Linked DNA regions of Homo sapiens: region 2 is linked to region 1. The links come from fine-mapping of genetic effects on gene expression. A gene starts in region 1. The other region holds a variant in brackets. All regions are shown on one strand. Distances are between the middles of the regions.

Region 1 (5,365 bases):
CTCGTCATCGCCGGGATCCTCTTCATCCTGGGCATCCTCATCGTGCTGAGTGAGTGCCCCTAGCTCCCGCCCTCTACCCCGCCTCTCCCTGGCCCCACCTCTCTCTGGCCCCGCCTCTCCCTGGCCCCGCCTCTCCCTAGCCCCCCTCTCCCTGGCCCCGCTTCTCCCTGGTCCCGCCCCTCCCTGGCCCCGCCCCGCCCCAACCCCTCCCAGGCCTTGCCCCGCCTACCCTGCCTTGGTTCCCCGGCCCCCGGTCTCGCCTCTAGCCCCGCCCCGTCCCCCAAGCCCCGCCCCTCGCGAGGGCGAGCTGGAGCTACAGCGCCGCTTGGCGCCCGCCGGGAGGGAGCCTCAGCTTCTCCTACCTCTCCACGCCCACAGGCAGAAGATGCCGGTGCAAGTTCAACCAGCAGCAGAGGTAAGACGCCCCTCCCCGCCCTCCTTCGCCCGCTCCTGCTCTGGAGGGCGCCGCGGGTGAGGCGGGGAGTACCCCTGACCCGCAGCCCGATCCCCGTCAGCGACTATGTATTAAGCACCTACTATGTGCCATGGCCCAAGCCTGGCCCTGGGACCAAGCGAGGAAAAAACCTCCCGCCCTTCCTGGCCGAGCTCCCAGCCTAGTGGAGGCGGTGGCCGTGGGTTCCAACAGCCCCACAGATAGAAAAATCACAAAGCGTGATAACACAAAGTGCAGGAAAGAAGAAACGGCGGTGAAATGAGATCATCTCACACGCGGCCCAGTTTAGCTTAGAGTCTTGTTCCTAGCTCTTTGATTCCTCTTCGAATAAAATGTTAAAGCATGGACAATGTATGAATATGTTAGAACAATTATAGATATTATCATAAGTAGTAGCTAATATTTACTGGGTGTGTACCACGTGTTAGATACGGTTTCACTTCCTCTGGGAGGGAGGTGCTGTTATTAACCCCATTTGACAGATGAGGAAACTAAGGCACAGGGAGGTAAAGTCACTTTGTTCAAGATCACTCAAGTGGAAGATGGGGGGTTCTGGGTTTCCAACCCAGGCCATCTCATGGCAGTCTGCCAAGTCCCCATGACTATCCCTCCCCCACCAACTTCACATCCCTGCCCCCAAATCCGCGGAGGTACTCACTGTTAACCAGCTTAGAAGCCCCCTGCCAGCACATAAGCTGCTCCTGGGTGCTCCTCATTTCTGGCGGACCCCGAGCCTGCTCTTCGTCCATATCTGGGCCTAGTTACACCAATCTGGGAAAGGAGGCTTGTACTGGGGGGTTCCTAGAAGGGCAGCCTCTCCCCCTTTCCATCCCGAAATCCCTCTGCCTCTGTCTTCCCAGGACTGGGGAACCCGATGAAGAGGAGGGAACTTTCCGCAGCTCCATCCGCCGTGAGTCTGGGGAGACTGCGGGTATTCTGGGGAGAGGGCTGGTTCCAAGGACCGCTTTTCCCGGCCCTCCCTGGCTGCGTAGAGGGAAGGGCTGGATCTGAAAGCGGAGGGCGGGGAGTTGCCCCGCCGCGGGCCCCACCTGCCCAGGAGCTGGGGATGCCTCTCCAGAATGACCCCCGATCTCCGTGTTCCCCCCAGGTCTGTCCACCCGCAGGCGGTAGAAACACCTGGAGCGATGGAATCCGGCCAGGTGCTGCAGCTCTGACACGGCGGTGGGAGGGAAGGAGGGAGGAAGGAAAGGCGGGAGAGGGAGGGGGCCAAGTGCCAGAGTTGAAGGGCGGCGAGGGGTGGGGCTGGACGTCCCCCCTCGCCTCTCACCCTTTTCACCCTCACAGGACTCCCCTGGCACCTGACATCTCCCACGCTCCACCTGCGCGCCCACCGCCCCCTCCGCCGCCCCTTCCCCAGCCCTGCCCCCGCAGACTCCCCCTGCCGCCAAGACTTCCAATAAAACGTGCGTTCCTCTCGACAGCACTTTGTCGGTCTCGGTCCCTCAGCGCGAAACGCCAGCGCCACTGGGCCCCAGCAGGGGGCGCCCCACCCTAGAGGAAGGGGCGGGGACGACGGTGGTGGGCGGGGGCGGGGGCGGGGGTGGCCTGCACGGGGGCGGGCTCCCCGGGCCCCCATTGGCTGCAGGCCCCCCCACGCCAGGGCTCCCCCCAGCTCCCCCCCACATCGGTCCGTCCTGCTTCCAGCTGCTGCAGCGCGCCTTCGCCGCCAAAGCATCCAGCAGCCCCCTGCTCCGGCCCAGCATGGCGACCCCGACCCAGACCCCCACAAAGGGTGAGCGTCGTTTGGGGAGGGGGTTGCAGGGGGGCTCCGGGATCTGAGAGCCTAGGAGAGAGGGTGTCGGGAGATTCAAGCAATGGTAAGGCAAGGGAGTTGGGGGAGGGAGGTCCGCTCCTCCTGTGGGCGGAAGCCCCTGTAATGCGCCCCCCCGATCGCCCCTCCGGGTCTCTGGGACACCCCCTCCCCGGCAGGCGTCCTGTGCCAGACCTGCGGTTGGAGAGTGGCAGTCCCGGGAGAAGGGATGCTCGGACAGGTCGCTATGGCAACCGGGTGGCTGGTCCCGCACCGTGGTGGTAGCAGACGGGGAAGAGATGAGCTTGCAGGGTGGGAGCGGGTGGGTCTGCGACCAGAGACGTTCTGGAAGATTTCAGGGTCCCTGGGGTGGGCAAGGGAAGGGGAGGAGGTTCATGTCCCTCTTCTTTCCAGTGCTGTCTCCTAGGGTGTCTGTTTCCTGAAACCCTTGACAGCCAGGTTCAGAGGAAAGGAGTGAGAGCTGAAGGAAGAGACAGAGAGAAGGGATATAGCAAGAGACAGACAGGGAGAACCTGGAAGAGACAGAGACCAAGAGAGGCAGGAGATCCAGAGTCACAGATACAAAGACCCAGGAAGACAAATAGATGGACTCAGAGAGATTCCCAGTGGAGGGGAGAGGCTGAGAGCAGTAGACAGAGATGCAGAGAGAGAGAGAAAAAAAAATGAGAGCCTGGGAGATAGTGGGATTGAGACCGCTATGGAGAGAGAAGCAGAGAGACGGAGGGAGAGAGACGGACCCATGGGGAGAGAGGGGAGTAGAAAGAGAAGAAGGGAGCCATGTGGGGTGGGGCCCAAACCACTGCAGTGAGACCCTATGTGTGGGAATGGGGCGATGGGACCCTCCTTCCAGCCCACAGCAGGGGTGTTTTCCAATCCCAGAGGTGCTGTTGGGTATACACCTAGCTGCCCCTACTGCCCCCATCCAGCCACACACTGATTTCCATTCCACACCAATTAACCCAGTTATGCACCCACTTAAACACCCACTTCTACCGTCGCCCCCTAATAGCCCCCACTGCTAATCCTGCTTCTGCAGATGAGCAAGGCACAGACTGCTTCAAGAGGGAGCCAGTGCCCAGCAAGGGTCTCCAGCACTGAGGGCAGGGGACCAGGGGTGCTGAGAAGCCCCTGGCAGTGAAGGGAACCCGAATTCCACTTGGATGGCTCCCTCCCTTCCGCGCTTCCCAGCAGGCGGGGGCTGCTGCACTGAGCCATATCTGCAGAATCCGAAGCAGGGCGGGGGGTGGGGGGGGCTGCAGAGGCTGGAAGCTACCCTAGGGAGGGGGGCAGGGCTGAGGCAGCAGGCCTGGCGGGAGCCCAGGGCTTCTTTTTGCAGAGGTGGTGGTTAGCAGGATCGATGGCAGCAGACGGGCAGAGGTGGGAGGACAGACTCCTCAACCCAACCTCCTCTGCCTCCCCCTTTCCCAGTCACAGCATGACAGGGGACCGCAGGTCTCGGGAAACCCCGGGGGAGGAAAAGCATGTTGTGCATTGCAAGCTGCTTAAGGAAACTAATTAATGAATTGTTGGGGAGCGAGGGGGGAAGAGGGGAGAGTCTCCCTCCACCCTGCCAGAGAACAGGAGGGAGAGTTAGGAGTGAACAGAAGAGGGATGCATGAGCACAGCTGGGTCCGGGTCCCTATCCCTGAAATGGACCCTTAGCTTGGCCAGAAGCCAGTCCTGCAGGGGCAACGGCAGGAGGTGCAAAAGGAGGGGAGAGGGTCAAGATTGAAACCTGCATCTCACACAGGACCTCACAGGGGACCCCACCCAGCCTGGGGTGGCGGGACCTATCACCTCTCTTCACCTCCCAAGATGCCCCAGTTGCCATAGCAACCACCTCCTTCCTGATATCTCTTTGGCAGCTGGCCAGGAGTAGTGCACATTCCTTTGCCTGACTCCTGGCCCCACCCTTAGCCCAGCCACGCCTGAGGGCCCAGGTTGCCGGGGCAGCAGGGACCAGAGGAGGATCTTCCGCATGGAGGAGGATCTTCCACATGGAACACCAGATTCTGGGACAGGGGCTCACCCAGTGGGCTCCCGATAACTTTGGGGAAGGACGGGTGTGTGGAAAACAGACAAGTGAGACAATCCACCTTTTACAGCCTCCTGCAGCCTAGGACTGCCTCATAATCATTCCTTCATTCATTCATCCCAGAAAACTTGAAGAGCCTTTCATAAATGTCAGGATGAACAGCAGTGATGAGTCAAACAAATTTACTCTCTGGTGGGGAAACTTACACAGAGCACAAGGGACCCTGAAGCAGCGTCTCACCATCTTGGCGCTTTTGAGTACTACCGTCACAATTTTTGCTTTATTCAAATATTCCTCACACTGCTATTTATTTAATTTTTTTCCTTAAAAGGATTAGCTTTTTTATTTTTATTTTTTGAGACAAGGTCTCACTCTGTCGCCTAGGCTGGAGTGCAATGGCACGATCACAGCTCACTGCAGCCTCAACATCCTGGGCTCAATCTATCCTCCTGCCTCAGCCTCCCAAGTAGCTGGGACTACAAGGCACTTCTGCTACACCCAGCTAATTTTTGTATTTTTCATAGAGACTGCTTTTGCTATGTTTCCCAGCCTGGTCTCAAACTTCTGGGCTCAAGCAATTCACCCACTTTGGCTTCCCAAAGTGCTTAGGATGACAGGCGTGGGCCACCATGCCCAACCCAGGATTAGCTTTTGAAAACAACGAGCTTTATTTTATAGCACCATCACAACTGGAAAATTAATCTTCTTTTTTTTTTTGAGACAGAGTCTCGCTCTGTCATCCAGGCTGGAGTGCAGTGGCACGATCTTGGCTTACTGCAACCTCTGCCTCCCGGGTTCAAGCAATTCTTCTGCCTCAGCCTCCCAAGTAGCTGGGACTAGCAGCGGCACACCACCACACCCAGCTAATTTTTGTATTGTTAGTACAGATGGGGTTTCACCATATTGGCCAGGCTGGTCTCAAACTCCTGACCTCGTGATCCGCCCACCTTGTATTCCCAAAGTGCTGGGATTACAGGCATGAATCACTGTGCCCAGCTGGAAAATTCATCTTCTTTTTGCCTTAAGTTGAAGGCAGCATAAGAGCAATCTGAAGCAGGTGATTTCGCTTTTCTGGGTCTGGTGT
Region 2 (5,365 bases), 34 kb after region 1:
TCTCAAAAGCATTGTCTTGAGTGAAAGAAACCACACACGAAAGAGCACAGACTGTGTAATTCCATTTATATGAAGTTCTGAAATATGCAAAACTGATTAACAGTGATAAAAATCAGAAGAGTAGTGGCCTCTACTATGTCAGCAGGAGGTGGGGAGAGACTGCAAAGGGGCATGAAAGAACTTTCTGGAAGGATTGAAATGTTCTGTGCCCTGATGACAGTGGTGCAGATTACATGTCCATATATTGATCAGAATGATCAAATTGTACGTTTAAGTTTTGAGGGCTCGGTGCCGTGGCTCATGCCTGTAATCACAACACTTTGAGAGGCCAAGGCAGGTGGATCACTTGAGGTTGGAGTTCGAGACCAGCCTGGCCAACATGGTGAAACCCCGTCTCTACTAAAAATACAAAAATTAGCCAGGCATGGTGGTGCATGCCTGTAATCCCAGCTCCTCAGAAGGCTGAAGCAGGAGAGTCGCCTGAACGTGGGAGGCGGAGGTTGCAGTGAGCCGAGATCGCGCCACTGGACTCCAGCCTGGGTGATGGAGCAAGACCCTGTCTCAAAGGAAAAAAAAAAAAAAGATTTGTACACTTTACTATGTGTAAGTGATATTTGGATGTGTGACCCCTCCAAATCTCATGTTGAAATGTGATCCCCGATGATGGAGGGGGGCCTGGTGGGAGGTGATTGGGTCATGGGGGTTGATCCCTCATGAATGGCTTGGTGTCCTCCCCATGGTCATGCGTGAGTTCTTGCCCTCTTAGCTCACGTGACAGCTGGTTGCTTAAAGAGCCTGGCACCTCCCCCTCTCTCTGTCTTACTCCTGCTCTTGCCATGGGACACGCCTGCTATCCCTTCACTTCCTGCTATGAGTAAAAGATTCCTGAGGTCTCTTCACCAAAAGCCAAGCAGATGCTGGTGCTGTGCTTGTACAGCCTGAAGAACCATGAGCCAAAGAATTCTCTTTTCCTTATAAATTACTGTCTCAAGTATTCTTTTATGGCAATGCAAAATGAACTAACACAGTAAATTATAACTCAATACAAAACAAGAACATTGAAAACAAATAGGCAGTTCTGTCCTGGGTGGTGATGATTTTCTGATCCCTGGATCTCAGACAGAGCAGCCAGATGCTGAAGCTGACGTGTACAATGGGGGCTCCTGATTAGGGTGGAGGGAGAAGCTCCTTGGGCAAGTCAGTCTGCTCATGTTGTGGAATCATTTGCAGTCTTCACTTAGAGCGCACTCCACCAGCCTTTCCAAAGAGCTTGTCAACCTCTAATTCCTTATGCCAAGCCAGACCAATTTTGCTTAAAATTGACAGTCACAAATAATCTCAAAATCTCGTGGCTTACAACAAAGGTTTGTTTCTCGCTCTCACTACATGTCCCTCACGGTTCAGCTAGGAGCTAGGATGGGACCCAAGATGATGGGGAAGCCTGGGCTGGGCGCAGTGGCTCACACCTGTAATCCCAGCACTTTGGGAGGCCGAGGCAGGCAGATCGCTTGATCTCAGGAGTTTGAGACCAACCTGGCCAATATGGTGAAACCTTGTCTCTACAAAAAATACAAAAATTAGGCCAAGTGCAGTGGCTTACACCTGTAATCCCAGCACTTTGGGAGGCCGAGGCAGGCGGATTACCTGAGGTCAGGAGTTTGAGACCAGCCTGGCCAACATGTCAAAACCCCATCTCTACTAAAAATAGAAAGATTAGCCAGGCATGGCGGTGCATGCCTGTAATCCCAGCTACTCAGGAGGCTGAGGCAGGAGAATCACTTGAACCTGAGAGGCGGAGGTTGCAGTGAGCCGAGATCAAGCCACTGCACTCCAGCCTGGGTGACAGAGTGACAGAGTGACACTCCGTCTCAAAAACTAAATAAAAATAAGCTGGGCATGGTGGCTTGCGCCTGTGGTCCCAGCTATTTGAGGGGTGAGGTGGGGGGATCGCTTGAGCCCAAGAGATGGAGGTTGCAGTGAGCTGAGATCACGCCACTGCACTCCAGAGTGAGACCCTGTCTAAAAGAAAAGAAAATAAAAGAAAAGAAATGTTTCTGGTTATCATAGCAGGCAGAAGGCAGAACAAGGAACAAGGTGAGACACACACTGGCTCTTATAGCCTCTGTCAGGAAGGGACACACCTCATTTCTGCTCACATTGTCATTATCGAAAGCAAATCACACGGGCACATTTGAGTTCAACAGCACAGAACATTACAATCTTCTTATAGGAAGGTATATTAATCCGTTTTCATGCTGCTGATAAAGACATATCTGAGATTGGGAAACTTACAAAAGAAAGAACTTTATTGGATTTACAGTTCCACGTGGCTGGGGAGGCCTCAATCATGGCAGAAGGTGAAAGGCACGTCTCACATGGTGGCAGACAAGAGAAGAGAGCTTGTGCAGGGAAACTCCCCTTTTTAAAACCCTCAGACCTCATGAGACTCATTCACCATCACAAGACCAGCAAGAGAAAGACCTGCCCTTATGATTCAACCACCTTCCACTGGGCCCCTCCCACAATATGTGAAAATTCAAGATAAGATTTGGGTGGGGGCACAGCCAAACCACATCAGAAGGGAACTGGGTATTGATGGGCAGTAATATTGTTTACTGCAAAGGACATTTATTATCTCACATAGCAAGAGTTCTAGAGGCAGAAACTGTATTCAGCTTCAGGAGACAGCCAGAAACAACGACTTAAACAGGTTATTTATTCCTCTCTCACATAGCAGAACTCTGAAGTACATAGTGCAAGGCTGGGAAAGAGGATCCCTAATATCATAAGGGACCAGACTTGCTGCTCTGCCACCCTAAGCATGTGGCCTGAAGCCTCAAGATCACAAAATAGCTGCAGAAGCCTCAGCCATCATGCCACATTCCAGGAAAAAAATCAAGAAGGGGAAAAAAAAGTGAGAAAGGAAAGGCACCACTAGGTGATTCAGCTCCTTTTAAAG[G/A]GACTTCCCAAGACTCCCTCCCAAAGATTTCTACTTCCTTCGGATTGCTACCTCTAATTGCAAAGGACACAGAAATGTGGTCTTTTAGCTGAGTCCGTGACACCCCAAATACCATCAAGGAAAATAATTGCCCTCAGGAATTTGTTGATTAGGATGCTGAGAAGGATGGGGAGCTGCCACCAAGTCAGGAGATGGAGCCTCAAGTCATTTTTACTCCAATGTAAAAGGAAAAGATAACTGTTAAGACTGGGGGTTGGCCAGGCACAGTGGCTCACACCTGTAATCTCAACACTTTGGGAGGCCAAGGCAGGTGGATCACCTGAGGTCAGGAGTTCGAAACCAGCCTGGCCAACAGGGTGAAATCCCATCTCTACTAAAAATACAAAAATTAGCCAGGCATGTGACACATGCCTGTAATCCCAGCTACTCGGGAGGCTGAGGCAAGAGAATCACTTGAACCTAGGAGGCGGAGGTTGCAGTGAGCCAAGATTGCACCATTGCACTCCAGCCTGGGTGACAAGAGTGAGACGTCATCTCAAAAAAAAAAAAAAAACTGGTCGTTTTTGAAACTTCCAGAGGACAGCAGCACTGATTCTCAGACTTGATAGAGACTTCCAGACATCACTTCAACAGCGCCTCCAATGCTCTCCAATGCTACCCAATCCCTTTCTGGCAAAAGACATCTTTTTCTGTGGCATCATGGTCTGAAGTGAAGCCTCCTCCTCCTCCACCCTTACATCAGGGGAGATATCTTGCCAGGAGCTAATGGAGTGGATGTTGTAATTCAGCTAGCCTCCTGAGTACAATTCTGTCAAGGTTCTTGTTTTGAAATTGAGGCCAGATCACATTAACTGGAAGGAATCTGCCTTTTCTCATCTGACACTAGATTGTGCTTTTCTTGGAGGTGTTGAGGATGACCTCCAATGATTGCTTCGGTAAAGTCTGTTGGCTTCTCAAGAAGTTATTGAGTCAAGGACTCCAGCTGCTGATGGTGGGAGGTTAAACAGGGTTTGAAACATCGCCTGAGGTGGCTTTGTAATGTATCACCTTGGCCAGGTTAAACTACACTTCCCAGAATCTTTTTCCCTAGATGCCTGTGTTTTCTGGTTAGGGTGAACCACAAGAGACATTCTTGTCAGGGATCTGCTGGGTAGAGGTGAAGCCACGGACATTTCGCAGCTTATACCAGTTGTCACTTATCAGACAGCTCATCTCATTGGCATAAGGCAGCAACCAGGGCTGCAACTGTTTCACCTTCCGCTGGATCCTCCTTCAGCTTCCCCAGTTGTTGGGCCAGACATGTGTGCTCAGCCCCGTGATGAAGGACCATGACTCTAGCAAGACACCCACAGCACCAAGGTCATAGACAACAAGAATTAGCATGGGGCTGGGTGCAGTGGCTCATGCCTGTAATTCCAGCACTCTGGGAGGCCGAGGCGGGTGGATCACTTGAGGTCAGGAGTTCGAGACCAGCCTGGTCAACATGGTGAAACTCCATCTTTACTAAAAATACAAAAATTACCCAGGCGTGATGTTGCATGCCTGCAATCCCAGCTACTCGGGAGGCTGAGGCAAGAGAATCTCTTCAACCTGGGAAGCAGAGGTTGCAGTGAGCAGAGATCACACCACTGCACTCCAGCCTGGTCGACCGAGTGAAACTCTGTCTCAAAAAGAAAAACAAAAAGAAAGAAAGAAAGAAAAAAAAGAAGAGAAAAGAAAAAGAAAAAGAATTAACATAGGATTCAGTCCATCCTTGTGGACTCCAGCTTGTGCTTGTGGGTTCTAACTTGTTCCGTGCTCTCCCCAATCTTACCTCAATCTTCCCTTCCTGACTTCCTGCACCTGTGGGTTTCAAGTTCCAGCATCAAGACAACAGCCCTACAAAGAGAGCTTCACTAGCAACTACAATTGTTGAAGGTCAAATTCGTGTAGCAAACTGTGTGTGTGTACGCCCACATATGTATTAAAGGTTCAGCTTTGCTGATACAGAATTTGGTACTAAGAGTGGTTCCAGAAGGCCAGAATCTTAACAATGAGATCTGGTTTTTCTTTCTCTTTTTTTTTTTTTTTTGAGATGGAGTCTCACTCTGTCACCCAGGCTGGAGTGTGGTGGCGTGATCTTGGTTTACTGCAAGTTCCGCCTCCCGGGTTCACGCCATTCTCCTGCCTCAGCCTCCCCAGCAGCTGGGACTACAGGCGCCTGCCACAACGCCCAGCTAATTTTATTGTACTTTTAGTAGAGACGGGGTTTCACCGTATTAGCCAAGATGGTCTCAATCTCTTGACCTTGTGATCCACCTGCCTCGGCCTTCCAAAGTGCTGGGATTACAGGCGTGAGCCACCGCGCCCGGCCGAGATCTGGTTTTTCTAGAATTGGTTCTCTAATTAAATTGAAAGCCATTAATG

Evidence for each region.
Region 2: its variant is fine-mapped to the expression of FXYD7 in whole blood (INTERVAL, PIP above 0.99).

What each region holds. Positions count from the first base shown.
Region 1 is chr19:35,141,158-35,146,522 of GRCh38, forward strand. FXYD7 (FXYD domain containing ion transport regulator 7) reads left to right here and starts at 2,098. Exons shown (of 6, transcript NM_022006.2): 1 at 2,098-2,207. The coding sequence starts at 2,177. It overlaps FXYD1 (FXYD domain containing ion transport regulator 1), which reads left to right. Exons shown (of 8, transcript NM_021902.4): 4 at 1-49; 5 at 379-415; 6 at 1,315-1,364; 7 at 1,563-1,614; 8 at 1,760-1,952. The coding sequence ends at 1,585. RefSeq lists silencers at 1-108, 219-438 and enhancers at 73-635, 1,759-2,319, 2,320-2,881.
Region 2 is chr19:35,175,209-35,180,573 of GRCh38, forward strand. No RefSeq gene overlaps it. Among named protein-coding and RNA genes, the nearest start is that of FXYD5, 23 kb to the left of the region's middle. RefSeq lists a silencer at 643-799. The variant G/A (reference allele first, on the strand shown) is at 2,960.